Regions from separate parts of the Homo sapiens genome. Here region 2 is linked to region 1. The links come from fine-mapping of genetic effects on gene expression. Tissue or cell type: nasal epithelium. Region 1 holds a variant in brackets; the other region holds the start of a gene. All regions are shown on one strand. Distances are between the middles of the regions.

Evidence for each region. PIP is the estimated chance that this variant, and not a neighbour inherited with it, causes the effect. A credible set is the group of variants that fine-mapping cannot tell apart.
Region 2: it holds the start of C1QL2, and the variant in region 1 is the best candidate, but not a certain one, in a credible set for the expression of C1QL2 in nasal epithelium (TOPMed, PIP 0.62).

Annotation. Positions count from the first base shown.
Region 1 is chr2:119,087,565-119,095,743 of GRCh38, forward strand. No RefSeq gene overlaps it. Among named protein-coding and RNA genes, the nearest start is that of C1QL2, 67 kb to the right of the region's middle. The variant C/T (reference allele first, on the strand shown) is at 3,414.
Region 2 is chr2:119,155,201-119,163,379 of GRCh38, forward strand. It overlaps C1QL2 (complement C1q like 2), which reads right to left and starts at 3,551. Exons shown (of 2, transcript NM_182528.4): 1 at 2,386-3,551; 2 at 1,043-1,781. The coding sequence starts at 3,069. The coding sequence ends at 1,602. RefSeq lists an enhancer at 1,919-2,729.

The DNA of each region.
Region 1 (8,179 bases):
CTCTTGCATTAAGGGTGAGGGGCCAGCTCTGTTTGCCCCATTTCCAGATGCTTCTACAGGGAGTTAGTGCAAACCCCTCCAATGACTTTTCCCTTGTCCAAAAGTTCCAAGGGCATTCATTCATTTAAAAGAATTTAGTGGGCCCATAACATGTACCATCACTGTGACAGATGAACGAGATGGAGACACCCCACACCAGCCTCCCTGGGGTTTACAGTCAGGGAAGGCTGGCCCCAAGGACATGGATACATCAACAGCAAATCCTCAGAAGTGGGCCTGGCCCTCTGGAATTGGTCCCACTGCTTCTCTCAGACCTTTCCATGCTTATCCTTGCGTCCCAGGGGCCACCTACCAAAGACATGTGATTTGATAAGAACTGCACAGGCTGCGCATTGCTGACTTCTTTTGCCGCTCGCTGGGCTGTGTGCTTGTTAGAAATGCTGAGAGATTATTAGCATTTACAGCAAGAATACATCTCTAATTGTAAAATTCAGGCACTGAGCTGAGAGAGTTCTTTGGAGACAGATCTGTTTTGGGGCACGACCTGAAGACTTCTAGAGATGGATGCATGGGTGGATGGAGGGACAGAGGGACAGATGGATGGATGCATGGATGGATGGATGGATGGATGGATGCATGGATGGATGGATGGATGGTAGATAAATCACAGGTAGGTAGTTGGATAGATGGCAAAGAAAGTATAGGAAGATCTATGAAGAGAGAACAATAGAAGTGGATAGTGTGGATAAATGGCAGCTAAATGATAGAAACACAATAGTTCAAAAATATTCCAGCAAGGCCGACCCACCCGTGATCTTCCAGCTCACTCTCTTCCACATCCCTTTGGCCACTTCTCCAGCTCGGTGCTCCCCTCCTGCCCTTTGGCAACTGTGCTACTCCACACATCTGAGTCCCAGAGGCCTTTCCTGACCTCACCTGGCTGGGTTGGATGAGATCTCCTCTGCAACAGACTGTGAACCCACCTCCATGCTAGCATTTACAATATTGCTGGCTACTACCTGTAGACCTGTCAGCCCCCTGTCTCCTAGACTGTGAGCCTTTTGAGGGTAGGGTTGTGATCTACTATCCCCACTGTATCCTGAGCACTTAGCTTGTCCAGTGTTGATGAAATGAACTCAGTACACTATGCATGTGCCCATGAGAATTCACAGGGGAGACAGACTACAAGGTGGGTTTCTGCCTGGGGTCTCCTCCTCAGTTCAGTTGCAGGGCCCCCCTGACAAATGCTCCCTCCCACAGTGGCCATTTCCGGCAGGCTCTGCGAAGCAGACTCACTGTGCTGGGTGAGACTCTGCCGAGTGCCTCACTGGGTGACTGTAGCAGGCCTAGATGATTGCACAGTGAGCCCCAGGTGCAGCATCCGCAGGGAGGCCGACACAATGAGACCTGCACACCCTTCTGCTGTTAGCACTAACAAAGACAAATCGGATGCAGTGCTGGAGTGCTTTGCCTGTTAAGTGTTAAGTAGCAGACTGATTGCTCTGAAGTTGACAAGTGACAAGGAGTAAGGAAGGCAGCAGGTGCTTCCGACTGCCCTCCTGGGGGTAGCAGGGAACGGGGCTCTATCTAGGCAAGAGGAGATCTCTGACTGAGGGACCCTCACATCCCAGAGCAGGGCGATTCCTGTCTCGATCAAGGCTGGCCCTTGGTCCAGGCCCTGTTTCCTTGGTCACCTTCTGCAAACTTTCCCCAAAGCCTCAATTTTCCCCACTGCCTCTCAAGGACTGTCACAATGGAAAGCCCCATCTGTAGAAAACTAAGACTTTTATTAGGGGGTTGAGAGTGCAGCGGCATTTTTTTTTCTTTTTTTTTTTTGTTTTGTTTTTGAGATGGAGTCTCACTCTGTCGCCTAGGCTGGAGTGCAGTGGCAGGATCTCGGCTCACTGCAAGCTCTGCCTCCCAGGTTCACGCCATTCTCCTGCCTCAGCCTCCCAGGTAGCTGGTACTACAGGCACCCGCCACCACGCCCGGCTAATTTTTTTGTATTTTTAGTAGAGACGGGGTTTCACCGTTTTAGCCAGGATGGTCTCGATCTCCTGAATTTGTGATCTGCCCACCTTGGCCTCCCAAGCAGCAGCATTCTTGATGGGAAATAGAACATGAATGAAATCTTACCGGAAGTGTATTATCCCTGAAACAGGTGTCAGTGGAGCTGGTTAAAGCAGAAAAGAGGTCAGAGCACCCCCTGTTGTGCCGTCCCACCACATCTCCCACAGTGGCCCTGCGTCTCCTATACAGAAACCTAGACTCTCAGCACACAGTCTGGGGAACACAAGGCCCACGCCATACATTTAGTCTTGTATCACATCAGCATGCTCTTCTGATCTGTGTCTCCTGTTCAGTTGGTCCATCTTTATGGCCATCACCTTCCCAATAAGGTTATGAGCCGTGGATCAGACCTTCCGGCTCTTTTGGGAGCACAGTGCCAGGCCCCAGCAGACACCATGTAAAAGCCGTCATTTGATTGATGGGGAGTTCAAGGGGCATACATGCACAGCTCTCTGTAGGCTAGGCAGAGGGGTGGCAGGCAGGCACTCCCCACCATGCTGTGCTCTTCCCTGAGTAAATTCAAATAAATGGATGCTGCCTGACAGACCAATGTGCTCACTAATTTATATCGATGAACAAGATGAGAACTAAGGGACTGCATGAAACTTGGCTCCTGAGCTCTATCCCAGGGAATCTCAAGCTGCATTTCGTGTGCACACATGCATGTCTGCATGCCTACATGCATGAGGTGGGGGGCCATGTGGGGACTACCCAGGGCAGCTCCAGAGAGAAAATGCCTTTGTTTAGATTGATTCTTCTCCCCCCCTAAAATGATAATGCGATCATCCATGTAAACACTGACCTTGGCCAATAGGGAAAAATCATAAGTGCTTCTCAAACTAGTAATCATTTGTTACTGTTAACATAATGCCCTCCAGGATCCTCATCATATCTATATGCTTCCCAAATCTTGTTTTCAAGCCCCATTCCTTCAGGAAGCCCCTTCAGACTACATCTGCCTTCCTTCACCTCCCTTCTTCCCTGTTAGTTTTCATCAATTCTCCTCTGACACTGCTCCTCCTGAATTGCTTCAGGAACACAGGTGCAGTTCCTGTGCTGGGACAGAGGGTCTCTGAGGTTTGGCCCTGACCCAGCTTTCTCTCTGTACATCCCACACAGGCTGGCTGAAAACTGAGCAGGCAGGAGACGTGGCCAGACCAATGGATTGTTCCTGAGGGATTGTTTTTCTAGGTTCTTCCCCTCAAAGCTCAGTGGAACGGCAGTATCCTCTTGTGGAGGCACAGTGGCCGGTCCAGGATGAGTGAATGAGGGAAGGAAGACAAAAGGAAAGGGCAGCAGCTGAGGTTTGTCCTTCCTGGTCCACCTCCTCACCCTTTCCCAAC[C/T]AGAAAGTATATAACCGTTCTCTCCTCTGGAGACATCGCTGTGCCCAGTCCAGAAGCGACGGAGACCCAAGGAACGTTGTGGCAGAAGGAGATCATCTCAAGTGCAGTGCCCTTCCGTCCTGTTCTGAAAGCCTCCCAGCAATAACTAACTAGGTGGGGCTTCTCCTCTGTGCCTTCACAGCCCCCCGGGCCTTCCTTTGTCCTAGCAGGCATCACACGGGAGTCTACTTGCTGATCCCTCTGCCGCTGTTTCAGACTGTGAGCTGCTCAGGGGCCTTGCTGAAAGTTGATTGGATATGGATGAAGGGGTAGGTGGATGGGTGAGTGGGTGAGAGGTGGGTGGAATGATGGGTAGCAGATTTTGCTCAAAGGTCCTCAGAGTCTCAAAATTCAAATGAATTATTTAAGAGCATAGGCTTAGGAGAAAGGAAAGGAAAGGAGAGGAGAGGGGAGGGGAGGGGAATAATCCCTTTAAGTCCTATGCTTTAGTGAAGTGGCTATCAAAATATTTTTCATTTTTATTGGAGTGTTTGTGTTTTTACTGTTGATGTATAAGAATTATTTCCATATTCTAGATTCAAGACATGTGTCAGGTATATAGATTGTTCTCCCAGCCTGTAATGTGTTCTACATCTTCTTAATAGTGTCTTTTGCTCAGCAGAAATTATTAATTTTGATGAAATCTAATGTATCAACTTTTTCTTCTATGGATAGAGCTTCTTGTGTCCTCTCTAAGAAATCTCTGCCTACCTCCAGGTGTCAAAAATTTTTCAAAAATGTTTTTTTTGCTTAGAAACTTTTTACTTAGCTTTTGTTTTGGTCTGTGATCCACCTCAACTTACTTTTTGTGTTATGTGTGAAGTAGAGAGGGTCAGGGATTTTTTTCTATATTTTATATTTGTCCCTCAACCCTAGCACTTTTTGCCCAAAAGACTTTCTTTTCCACCCACTGATTTGCGTCAGTGCCTTTCTAGAAAATCAACTGGTCATATATACATGGGTCTGATTCTCTTTTCTTTCATTGATTTTCCTGGTCTTAGTATAGCCCAATGCCAAGAGTATATTGTCTCAATAATATAGTTTTACAGTAAGTCTTGAGATCAATTAATATAAGCCTTCCAGTTTTTTTTTCAAGATTATTTTCACTATAGTTGGTTCTTTACATTTCCTTTTAAATTTTTGAATCAATCTGTCAACTTCTACAAGAAAATTTTCTGACAATTTGATTGGATAGCTTTGAATTTATACATCAGTTTGAGGAGAACTGACATCTTAATAACGTTGATTCTTCTGATCCATGAATACCAGAATATCTTTTTATTTACTTTATTTTTAAATTGTATTTATTAAATTTTTTTTGAGACGAAGTCTCACTCTGTCACACAGGCGGGAGCACAGTGGCATGATCTCGGCTCACTGCAACCTCTGCTTCCCAGGTTCAAGCAATTCTCCTGCCTCAGCCTCCAGAGTAGCTGGGATTACAGGTGGACACCATCATGCCCAGCTAATTTTTGTATTTTTAGTAGAAACGGGGTTTCACCATGTTGGCCAGGCTGGCCTCGAACTCCTGACCTGAAGTGATCCTCCTGCCTTGGCCTCCCAAAGTGCTGGGATTACAGGCATAAGCCACTGCGCCTAGCCTTTTTATTTACTTTAGATCTTCTTTAATTTTTCATGATATTTTATAGTATTTAGTATGCAGGCTCACGTGTATTTTGTTAAATTTATTCCTAATATTTTATGCTATTTTAAATGGTACTTTTTCAAAGTTCAATTTCAAATTTTTCCTAGACATAGTCAATAGACAAAAAAACTTTTTATGTATATTGACTTTATATCTTGAAAAGTGTATTAAAATTGCTTATTAGTTCTCATAGGGTTTTTTTGGTAAACTCATGATTTTCTGCGTAGACAATCATGTTGTCTACTAATAAAGGCAGATTTACTTCTTCCTTTTCAATCACTCTACTTTTTAATTCAATTTCTTGCCTTATTGCACTGGCTATGACCTTCAGTAAAATACTGAATATATATGATCAGAGTGGGCATACTTTACTTGTTCCCAGTTTTGGTGTGAATATATACAGTTTGTCTCCATTGAGAATGGTATTAGCTGCAGGATTTTTGAGAAACTCCTCATCAGATGAGGAAGTTCCATTCTATTCCTAGTTTATTGAAAAGTTTTAACCTGAATGGATGTTGAATTTCATCAAATATTTGTTTACATCTATGGAAATAGTTCTTTTTTTTCTCTTTATCCTGTTAGTATAATTATCGTGATGGATTTTTGAATGCTAAATGATTTTTGTATTCTTGTGTTTCCATTCTACTTGCTCATGGTATTACTAACTTTTTGCATATTGGTAAATTCAACTTGCTAAAATTTTCTTGAGGATTTTTGCATATAAGTTCATGTGTAATGCTGATTTCTTCTAATATCTTTGTCTGGTTTTGCTAATACAGGGTAATGCTGACCTCATACAATGAATTAAGCAGGGAAGACTATTCCTCTATTTTCTGAAAAAGTTTGTGTAAGATTGGTACTGTTTCTTAGGTGTTTGATTGAACTGGCCTATGAATTTAACTAGGCCTGGTGTTTGATTGAACTGGCCTATGAATTTAACTAGGCCTGGAGTTTTCTTCTGGGGAAGGCCTTTGAAGACAAATTCAATTTATTTCATAGATATAGGGCTATTCAGAAATACTGTTCCATCTTGTGCCAATTTTTTGGAATTTATTTGCAATAGGAAAAATATTTTTGTAAAATTTTATAATACTTACTTCACAGTCAGTATTAAGGTCTACCTTGGTCAATGTTCTCTATACACATGAGAAGAATGTGTGCTCTGCCGTTGTTGGAGGAAGTGCTCTATAAATGTCAATTAGGGCAAGTTGGTAGCTAGCGTTGTTCAAGTCTTCTATATCATGGCTGATTTCTTTTGTCTAATTGTTCTATCAATCACTAAGGAGGCTGTTAAAATTTTCTAATATGATTGTTGCTTTAAATATTTCTCCTTTTATTTCCATCAGTTTGTGCTTTATATATGTTGAAGCTCTCTTATTAGATGCAAACACAGTAATTGACTGCTGAATTAGCCTTTTAAAAAATTTTTTGAAAACTCTTTATCTCTGTCTAACATTCCTTAACAGTTCTTATCCTGTAATTTATTTTGATATTAAAATAGCCACACACCAGCTTTATTATGTTTACCATTTGTGTTAGATATTTTTGCATTGTTTTGCTTTCAACACATCTGTGTCTTTATACTTAAAGATGCGTTTTTAAATATAAAAGGGTATGCTGGGCCCAGTGGCTTATGCCTGTAATCCCAACATTTTGGGAGGCTGAGAAGGGAGAATCATTTGAGACATAGAGTTCGAGACCAGCCTGGGCAATATAGTGAGACCCCTTCTCTACAAAAAATATTTTCTTATTTAAAAAAAGAAAATGTAGAAGTTTTTGTAGATGTAATATAGTTGGTTTTATTTATTTTTTCTGGTCTAAAAATCTCTGCCTTTTTCTTGCAGGTAAAACTATTTATATGTAATGCCATTGCTGATACAGTTGGGTTTAAGTCTACCATCTCCCTATTTGTTTTCTTTGCTTTAGCTTTATTTTTGGTTTCTCTACTATTTTTCTGCCTTCTTTTATGTTAGTCAAATATTTTTTAGAATTGTATTTTATTTTTCATGCTAGCTCTTTAGCTATTCCTCTCTACATTTTTTTAGTAGTTTCTGTAGATTACAATGTACATCTTTAAGTCATCACAGTCTACTGAGCACCACTTCAGGCAAAATGTATAAATCTTAAAGATATATAATACACTCCCTATCCTTTGTTCCACTATTGTCATGTAAATCCCACAATACAATGTTAATCCCACAATACAATGTTATTATTTTTGCTTTGAAATTGCTTAAATAAATTTTTTAAAATGAAACAATAAGCATTTATATTCACTCACATTTGCCATTTCCAATGTTTGGTTACTTTCCATAGACCTTAGTTTTTATTTGATACTATTTTCCTTTAACCTAAATTTAATATTTCACTTAAAGAATGTTTTTTGGTAATGAACTATCTTGGCTTTTATTTATTTCATTTTTATTTTTGAAGAATATTTTTCTTCAATATAAAAACCCACACCCAAAGACACTACAAGAAAGCTACACACCAATATCCCTAGTTAACACTGATGCAAAAATCTCAGCAAAATTCTAGGAAAACAAATTCAGCAGCAGTGTATTGAAAGGATTATATACCATGACCAGTGGAATTTATTCCTGGAATGCAAGGATGATTCGATACATAAAAATCAATCAATGCAATACATTACATGAACAGAATGAAGAAAAAGAAAACACATGATTATTTTAATTGCTGTAGAAAAAGCATTTGACAAAATTCAATATCATTTCATGATTTGAAAAAAAACAAAAAAAAACCCACTATCCTGGATCAGTGGCTCACACCGGTAATACCAACACTTTGGGAGGCCAAGGCGAGTGGATCATTTGAGCCTGAGAGTTTGAGACCAGCCTGGGCAACATGGCAAAATTTATCTCTACCAAAAATAAAAAGAAAAGAAAGAAAGAAATAGCAATACATGGTAGCATGTGCCTTTAGTCTCAGCTACTCAGGATGTTGAGGTGGGAGGATCGATTGAGCCTGGAAGGTCAAGAATGTAGTGAGCTGCGATCACAACATTGCACTCCAGCCTAAACACAGTGAGACCCTGTCCAAAAAAAAAAAAAACAACAACAAC
Region 2 (8,179 bases), 68 kb after region 1:
TCACAACATCACATCCACATAGGAGATACACACACACACACACAATCTCCAGCTTTACACAGATACACACACCCTGGGGTTGCCTTTTTGTGTATACTCACACATTTCTTTTCACACAACCCGTAAAAGTGACCTCAGTAAGCACTAACAGGTTGCTGGGAGCTGACTGGTTATTTTGTACATAACTTTGTTGTAACTCAGTGATCTGACAACAAAAAAAAAGTAAAAAGAAAAAAATCAAAACCATGCGGGGTGTTTTCCTAACTTGTGTGTGTGTAGAATGCTGATGGGACACCAAACACACACACTCAGGTTCAGAGCAGGCACCCCAAATCGCATGCATAAGGGAAGGGAAGCCCGCAGGAAAGAGGCGTCCCTCCCCAAGGAATGGTGTCCACCTCAACACACAGCCCTGAGGAAGTTCAGCAAGCTGGATGATCCGCGGAATTGCCTCAGTTTACCAGCTCTCCGGAGAGCGGTGGCCCTGGCGGCTGTGAGTAAACAGGCCTGTGCTTAGTGAACCATCCGCTCGAGCGGGTGTGTGTCTGCTAGGGACTTCTGCACTTCCTTTTAGGAGCCAAACATCCTACAGATCCCTCCCCGGCAAGTGTCACTCACGCCTCCCATTTCCCATAGATGCCTTCTCTTCCCCTTCCTTCCCCAGAAGCCCCTCCCCTCTGACCTCCACCCACAACTCCGGGAGGACTAAGTTGCCCAAGTTGCCCAAGACTGGAGACCCAATCATTCCTCTCCTGCTTTCCTCTAACTCTCCCTGATGCCTTTCCCCGCCTCCTCCCCTCCTCCCAACCCCACCTCCGGCCTCTCCAGCTCAGGGCTGCAGCCTGGGGAGAGCTTCTGGGAAGGGTGGGATGCAGCTCCCATTTACCCCATGTCTTTTCGGCAACTTCTGGTGGCAGGGACATAGCAGCGGCTGGGGAGCAGGTCATAGATGGGCCTATCCTGGGCCCAGGTAAGGTCTTTATGCCAAGGCGGACATCTGGAGCCCTGGTCCAGGATGTGTCGACATACAGACAACAGAACGCATAGTCTAAAAACATAATTTAATGCATCGCGGTGAGTCTGAGTCAGGAGGGAATGCGGTGTGGAGAGGTGAATTTTCTGTTTGCTGGAATTCTGCTGTGGGTGGGGTTTTGGCTGATGGACAGGGAAATCTGCACAAGTATTTCGGGTCACAAAGAAGGACGCCCCAGGAAGCCCGCGCTCCCTCTGGCCTACCTCCCTGGCCAGGGCCCGGAGCCCTCCGCTTCTAGGCACTGGGAGGAGGCTGTCTGAGGAGGGCAGGCTCCCGGCCCTGCCTGTCCAGTCTAATCAGGTTTGCAAAGTCTGTGCCGCCGCCTCAAGGGCTCGGGCGTCCCTTCCTCCCTTGCCGGGATGGGGATGGAGACCAGGAGCACAGCCCTGAGCGTGGTGGGTCGCAGACGCACTGAGGCCAGGAGCGGGGCAGGGAGGACGCAGGGATTTGTCTTTTCCAAAGGAGATGTCAGGAAGTGTTATGAATCGAGAGTGGCCTTTGCCAAGGAGCCGCGCCCGGGCGGAGACCGGGCGGCCTGCAGCCACCCCGCCTCGCACCCCCCGCGCCCCTAATCCGGGTACAGAAGAAAGCCCGAGAACGTGCTGTACTTGTTATTATTGCCTCCGTGAGCCTTCCCGCCATCCAGCTTCACATACACTTCGTCCCCTGAATCCAAGTGCAGCACCACGCTGTTACTGGCGTAGTCGTAGTTCTGGTCGGCGTCCTGTGCAATGGCGCTGGCCCGGACCTGGGGACAAGCGGTGGGAGCAGGTGAGCCGGGGCACCTCTTCCCGCGCCTTTGCTCAGCCCACACCAGGCGCGCCACTCACGGGCCTCCCGCCTGCTGCTTCAGGGTCCACACTCCCACCCCAGCTCCATGTTCTCTCTCCAACTTAGTCAACTCCTTCCAGGTCCCCCCTCCTCCTCGCGCCGACGAGTCTGGGAAATAGGGAGAGGGGAAGCTTCATGAACACTGACCCAGAGTGGAAGGGTGGGAGCCAGGGGCCAGGGCCAAGAGGAAAGGAGGCTGCAGGGCAAGGGGGCGACCTGGAGAGAACTAAAGAACTGAGGTTTCCGAGAAGCCCACGGAGAGGCAGGCAGGGACGCAAGTGGCCAAGGAGTGTAGTTTAGGTATGGGGGTCTCTGGGCTCTCAAGGCCCAACATTTGGCTCTACGTCCCGGTGAGCGCGGCCTCGGCGCATCGGGAAGCGGAGATACTGTGGCACCGAGGCGCGTTCATTCCCGGGGCTCGCAGGGTAGCCCGCGGGTGGAGAGAAAGGAGGCTGGTTCCCTGGGAGGTTCAGGGCGCGGGCGAGGGTTTACGGGGGCCGGTGAGTGTAGGGGTCACTGACCTGCCCGTTCTTGCAGAGGTCCGCCCACATGCTGGTGCCGTCGCCGCCGCGCATGAGGATGTGGTAGGTGAAGAAGTAGATGCCGCGTACCTGGCAGCTGAACTTGCCCGTGGTGGGGTCATAGTGATTGCCGAGGTTGGTGACCACGTCATCGAACTTCAGCACCTCATAGCCTTCGTGGGGGCTCTTGAGACCCACATAGAAGGCGATCTTGGGGCCGCTGAAGGTGGCGCTCAGCGCACTGGTCACTTCACCCTCGGAATCGCCACCTACCCCGGCCCCGCCGCCCACCACCCCGACGCCGCTGGCCGTGCCCGCCGTCAGTTGCAGCCCTGGCAGCCCGGGCCGCCCCGAGTCGCCCTTCTCTCCCGGAGGGCCCCTGGGTCCAGGCGGGCCCGGCTCTCCAGGGGGCCCCCGCGGCCCTGGCTTGCCCGGTCGCCCCGGGTCGCCCTTGGGTCCCTGGATGAAAGGAGGAGGAGGGTTGGCGCTGAGGTCCTGCATGACTTCCAGGGCGGCGGTGCTGGGTCCGGGTGGCTGCGCCTTTGCACCCGGGGGCTCCCCGCCGGGCGCGGCAGTGTAAGGGTCGCAGATCATGCGGCAGGTGCCCATCATCTCATAGTGCGCGGCGCCTCGGGGCGCCGCCTGCAGCAGCAGCGGCACGGCGATGAGCAGCCCGAGCGCCATGGCCAAGAGTACGCCGACGGCCGCCAGGCAGGCACGCCGCCGCCGCTGCCACAGCCGGGAGGCGACCGCCACCAGCTCCTCCTTGCCGCCCGGGGAGGTAATGGTGGGGCGGCGCGGGCGGCCCCGCTCCCCGCGCTCGGGGACCGGCTCCGCGGGTCCTGGCCGCGCCCCCGACGTGGCGACCCCCAGCCCCGGCTACCCAACTACTTCAGCGAGAGGCGCCGGGACCTCTGAGCCTGGGCCCACCGCGCTGGGGCTGGTCGGGAGAGCCGCGGACGCCCGCGCGCATGACGTGGGGCACACAAGACGAATCCGGCGCCCCGAGGGTCCGGCGCCGGCCAGGGAGTGCTTGCGCTGGCCGGGGAGTCTGCTTGCGGCGTCCGGCGCTGGCTCCGCGGCGCTGCCTCCCGCCAGGCTCCGCTCCGCTGGGTTTAGTGGGGCTCCTAGCGCAGTGAGGGCGCCCCGGCTCCGCGGCGCGCTCTGCTGTGCTCTCTCGCTGTTCGCTGGCTCCCGCGCGGAGGGGGGACCCCGCTACCCTGACGTAAGGAGTCCGGGGCTGAGCGGCGGAGGCGGCGAAGCAGCGCGCGCTGCCATCACTCGGGAGACGGAGCCCTCATGTCATCAGCCTCCTATCTGGCGGCGTCCTCGGCAGAGGCGGTGAAGGCGCGGTTCCCCCTGGCGGCTCCCAGGAGCCACAAGTGGGCGCAGCGGGCGCGGTCCCAAGCCGGGGCACATCGGACACACCCACCCGCGGCCACACTCACGCGCCCCCCACCGATAACACACACAGACACCCACGCACGCAGTGGCGGGGCACGCACAGCCACCCCCACATGGCCACGAAAGCAGCTGGAATCCAGGTGTCAGCAGGGCTCCTCTGGGGTCACCTAATCCATCCCCTGGCCTGCAAAGAGGATCAAACCTCAACCCACCGAGTCCAGGAGAGTCCCGTGAGGTCCAGCGGGAAGGAGTTTCTGAAAGACCTCCTGAGTTATTTCTTCAGAATTGAATAGATCTCGCTTCTGGAAGATCTTTCGCAAACCTAGACTAAGGACTCCAGACTCTTAAACAGGCTCCCGTAGAGCACCCCACTAACCTCTGAGGTGACTCTAAAAAGCCCAAGGCTCCCAATACAAGAATATTTGCGGCCGGGCGCAGTGGCTCACGCCTGTGATCCCAACACTTTGGGAGGCCGAAGCGGGCAGATCACCTGAGGTTGGGAGTTTGAGACCAGCCTGACCAACATGATGAAACCCCGTCTGTACTAAAAACACAAAATTAACTGGGCATGGTGGTGCATGCCCGTAATCCCAGCTACGCGGAAGGCTGAGGCAGGAGAGTCGCTTGAACCAGAGAGGCAGAGGTTGCGGTGAGGCGGGATCGTGCCATTGCACTCCAGCCTGGGCAACAAAAGCAAAAGTCCATCTCAAAAAAAAAAAAAAAAAAAAGGAATATTCGCCTCAGACCTTTTCTTCCACCAGAAAATGGCTGGCCCTTGTCCTCTGCGTGAAGCTGGTGTAGAAACCAAATGCTTGATGCCGGCACTTGGCAGTGATCATGGTGCACTCAGCTTCTACTCCAAGCCCGGCCACTGCCAGGCAGATGCATGGGCACATTCCCTTGGACATCCCCAGCTTCCTCCTCCTGAGATGGGTTTAGTTATTTTAGAAAATAGTCCAAATAGTCCAAAGCCATTCTGAGCCAGTCTTGAATAAACCATGGCCTCAGATGAGAGCAGAATAGTCTATCTCCAATGTAGCATGTGAGGCTAAGGAAGGATGAGAGGCCCGCCGGTGTGGGAGAGACTTCCAGCGGAGAAATCAAAGCCCCAGCTTCTGCTCTTGCCCTGAGTAGCTGTGTGATTTTGCCAGGTGGTTCCTGTCCCTGAGACTCAGTTTCCTTAAAAGGCCGCCTCCTGCCCTAGCACCCCCAACATGGGAATCACACCAGGCCTGTCCTGGGGGGAGAATCTAAGGGCTGGTGTCAGTGTTTGGTGTAGCATCAGCATCTCTGGAACAACAGTGCACCCACCTAAGGCTATTGCTTTGAAGCTAACTCTCATTTGTCCTGCACTAGGTTCTTACGGGTTAATTAAAATCTATTTTTGTCCTCTGATCACCCTGGGTCATTTCCCCACTCCCAACCTCGTTGCTCTAGCCTGTTCTCTCCACATATATTTGTGGAAAGGATGACTGAGCCTAGCCGGAAGCCAACTTTACCAAGGAGAGAAGGAGCACATTTATTGGCACCTACTACGTATGCATCAGGCACTTTGCACGTGCTCCTTCATTCATTCCTCATGTTACTGTGGATTAGTGATCATTTTCCCACCGCACCAATGAGGAAAAAAAAAAGGTTTTGCAAGTGTAGGGTGTTTGCCAAGTGCATTTTACCCACATGACAGAGCCAGGATCCTCCCGGCACCCAGATCAGGGGCTATCTGAACCTGTCAGTGAACACAGCTTCAACAGCTACTTCTTGGCCACAGTCTTCACTGGTTTCCTCAGACTTGGGAGTCTTTCTCCACTCTCTGCCTCAGAGTCATCCCAAGAGCACGTGATTTCAGGAGCCACATGGCCTACTTCCAATCCTGGGTCTGAGACTTCCTGTCTGTGTGACCTTGAGCAAGTTGCTTCATCTCTCTGAGCTCGGATCTCCATGTGTAGAATGGGAATGGAAAAAGAACCTACCTCTAAGTTATTGAGAAGACTGAACGAGCCAATTAATGTAAAGGCTTTAGAACAATAGCTAGCTCAGTAGAAGCTTAGCTATTTTTATTAGCTATTGATGCTTTCAACCTCCCCTGCCATGGTTATGACCACTAGGATGCGACATGAAGGCAATATGCAGGGTGGCATGGGGAGGGTTAGGGTTTTAAAAAAAGAGAAGCTCAAAGATAATTCACATCCTTTGTCCTTCTCCAGAGCGCAGAAGGGGGATGTCCCATGCCTCCCACATTCCCCAAGCCTGCCCTGCTCTGTCTTTTTGTCTTTCAAAACTACCCAGAGTGTTTGTTCCCAGTCACCAGTTCCACCTGGACAAACATTTTCCAGGCAGACACTCACTCCGTTTGAATTCCCCAGCCTTTCAGACTGCTGGAGACTGCCAAGTCCCAGTGATTTTGTCCTTGCAGTATCTGGGCAAAGATGAAGCAAGGAGGGTCAGATGTTTGAGACCCAGGCTTTCACCTTGGCAGACCACAAGCAAAGCTACCTTCCCTGGGGATCAGCATTCCTGGGAGCGCCTCTCAAGACCAGCCCTCCACCAGGAGGCAGGGGCAGCAGGCTCCAGGGCAGGCAGAGCCCAGGCAGCCTCCACATAGCAGCCAAATAAGTCAAGAGGTGTCTTTCCCCTTGCTTCTCCTTCCTCCCACCCATCATGGCAGGGCCAGAAGGCATGGCCTGCTGGAGTGTTGAACATACCTATTTTTTTTTCTTTTTTTTTTTTTTTTTTTTGAGACAGAGTCTCACTCTGTCGCCCAGGCTGCAGTGCAATGGTACAATCTTGGGTTACTGCAACCTCTCCCTCCCAGGTTCAAGCAATTCTCCTGCCTCAGCTTCCTAAGTAGCTGGGATTACAGGTGCCCGCCACCATGCCCGGTTAATTTTTGTATTTTTAGTAGAGGTGGGGTTTTGGCATGTTGGCCAGGCTGGTCTCGAACTCCTGGCCTCAAGCAATCCACCTGCCTCAGCCTCCCAAATTGCTGAGATTACAGGCGTGAGCTACTGCACCCAGCTGACATACCTGTTTATCCACCTGGCTTCTGCTCCTCCTGAGCGATCCATATCATTGGTGACTATCTTCTCTTCAATACTAATTATGACCTATATTAACATATTGCCTTCCATTTAGACTGTGGTTTTTACATTTCGAGACCCACTCAAATCTGTTCTAAATTGCCTTTAGTAATCCAGCAGGCATTCCTTCTGCCAACATACACTGACAACCTACTATGTGCCAACCAGTGCTCTCTATCTTATCCTTTCATAGAGCCCTGTGCTCTGTGACACATAGTTTGATGCTTGGTTCCACACTGTCATGTCCGGTTCTTTAGTGGCCTCCACCAGCAGTGGGCCCCATGCTTCATCTACCTGCACCATGGCCTGTCTCCTGCATCTCATCTGGACTCCTCTCTAATTATCCTTTCAGTCTCAGCTAAGTGTCACTTCCTTGTCTGAAGTCTTCCGTGACCCTTCTCTAAGCTGAGTTGATAGTTCCTACCCATGTACGCTTTAGAGTACGTTGAATGTACCCTGCCATCCTATGTCTTACCATCATGCATTTCTTTATTAGTTAGCCTCCCCCACCTGGCTATGGGCTCCAGTAGGGCAGGAATCGTATCATTCATTCATCTTCATCTTTTGTGTATGTCATTCATTTGCTCAATATGTGTTTATTGACCCCTGTCATATGCCAGCCATCATGCCACGTGCTGAGTACACAGTGGTACACAACAGTCTTGGTTCCTTCTACTCTAGCTGTTCTACAAGACACCCTCAGCTCCCCCATTTCTTTCTACCCGTAGCACATGAGTTTGTACCTGAACAGCTGCAGCATGGGTGTTTATTGACATGCTGTCTCTAAATCAGACCTGTGTCCCAATTAGAGTGTAAGCTCTTTAGAGACATCATGTGGAATACATTGGCCAATCTTCTGCCTGCATCCCCAAAGGGAAGGACAGCAGGAGATGTGTCAGGGAGATAGACAGGAGGGAGATCACCCAAGGCCTTGGAGCCCATGTTGAAAGAGGTGAATTGTCTCCTGTGTGTAATTGAGAACTGCTGAAGGAGTTTAAGCAGGGAAGTGATGTGATCCATCTATGTTTTGCAAAGACCACGCTGGCTGCTGTGTGGTGAATGGATGTGGTGGTGGAGTGGGGGTGGGTTTTGGAAATGAAACCAGTTTGAAGGCTATTGCATGATCTAAGCAAAAGATAACGATGGCTTGGTCTGAGATAGTAGAAGAGAAGTAGGTGAATTCCAGGTATATTTTGAACTTGGGGCCCATGGGTCTTGCTGATGGATTTGAGATAGAAGTTAAGGAAGGAGAAGGAAAAGAAAAAAAAAATCAAGATTAACTTCTAAGATTTGGGTCGAACAACTGGGTGAGT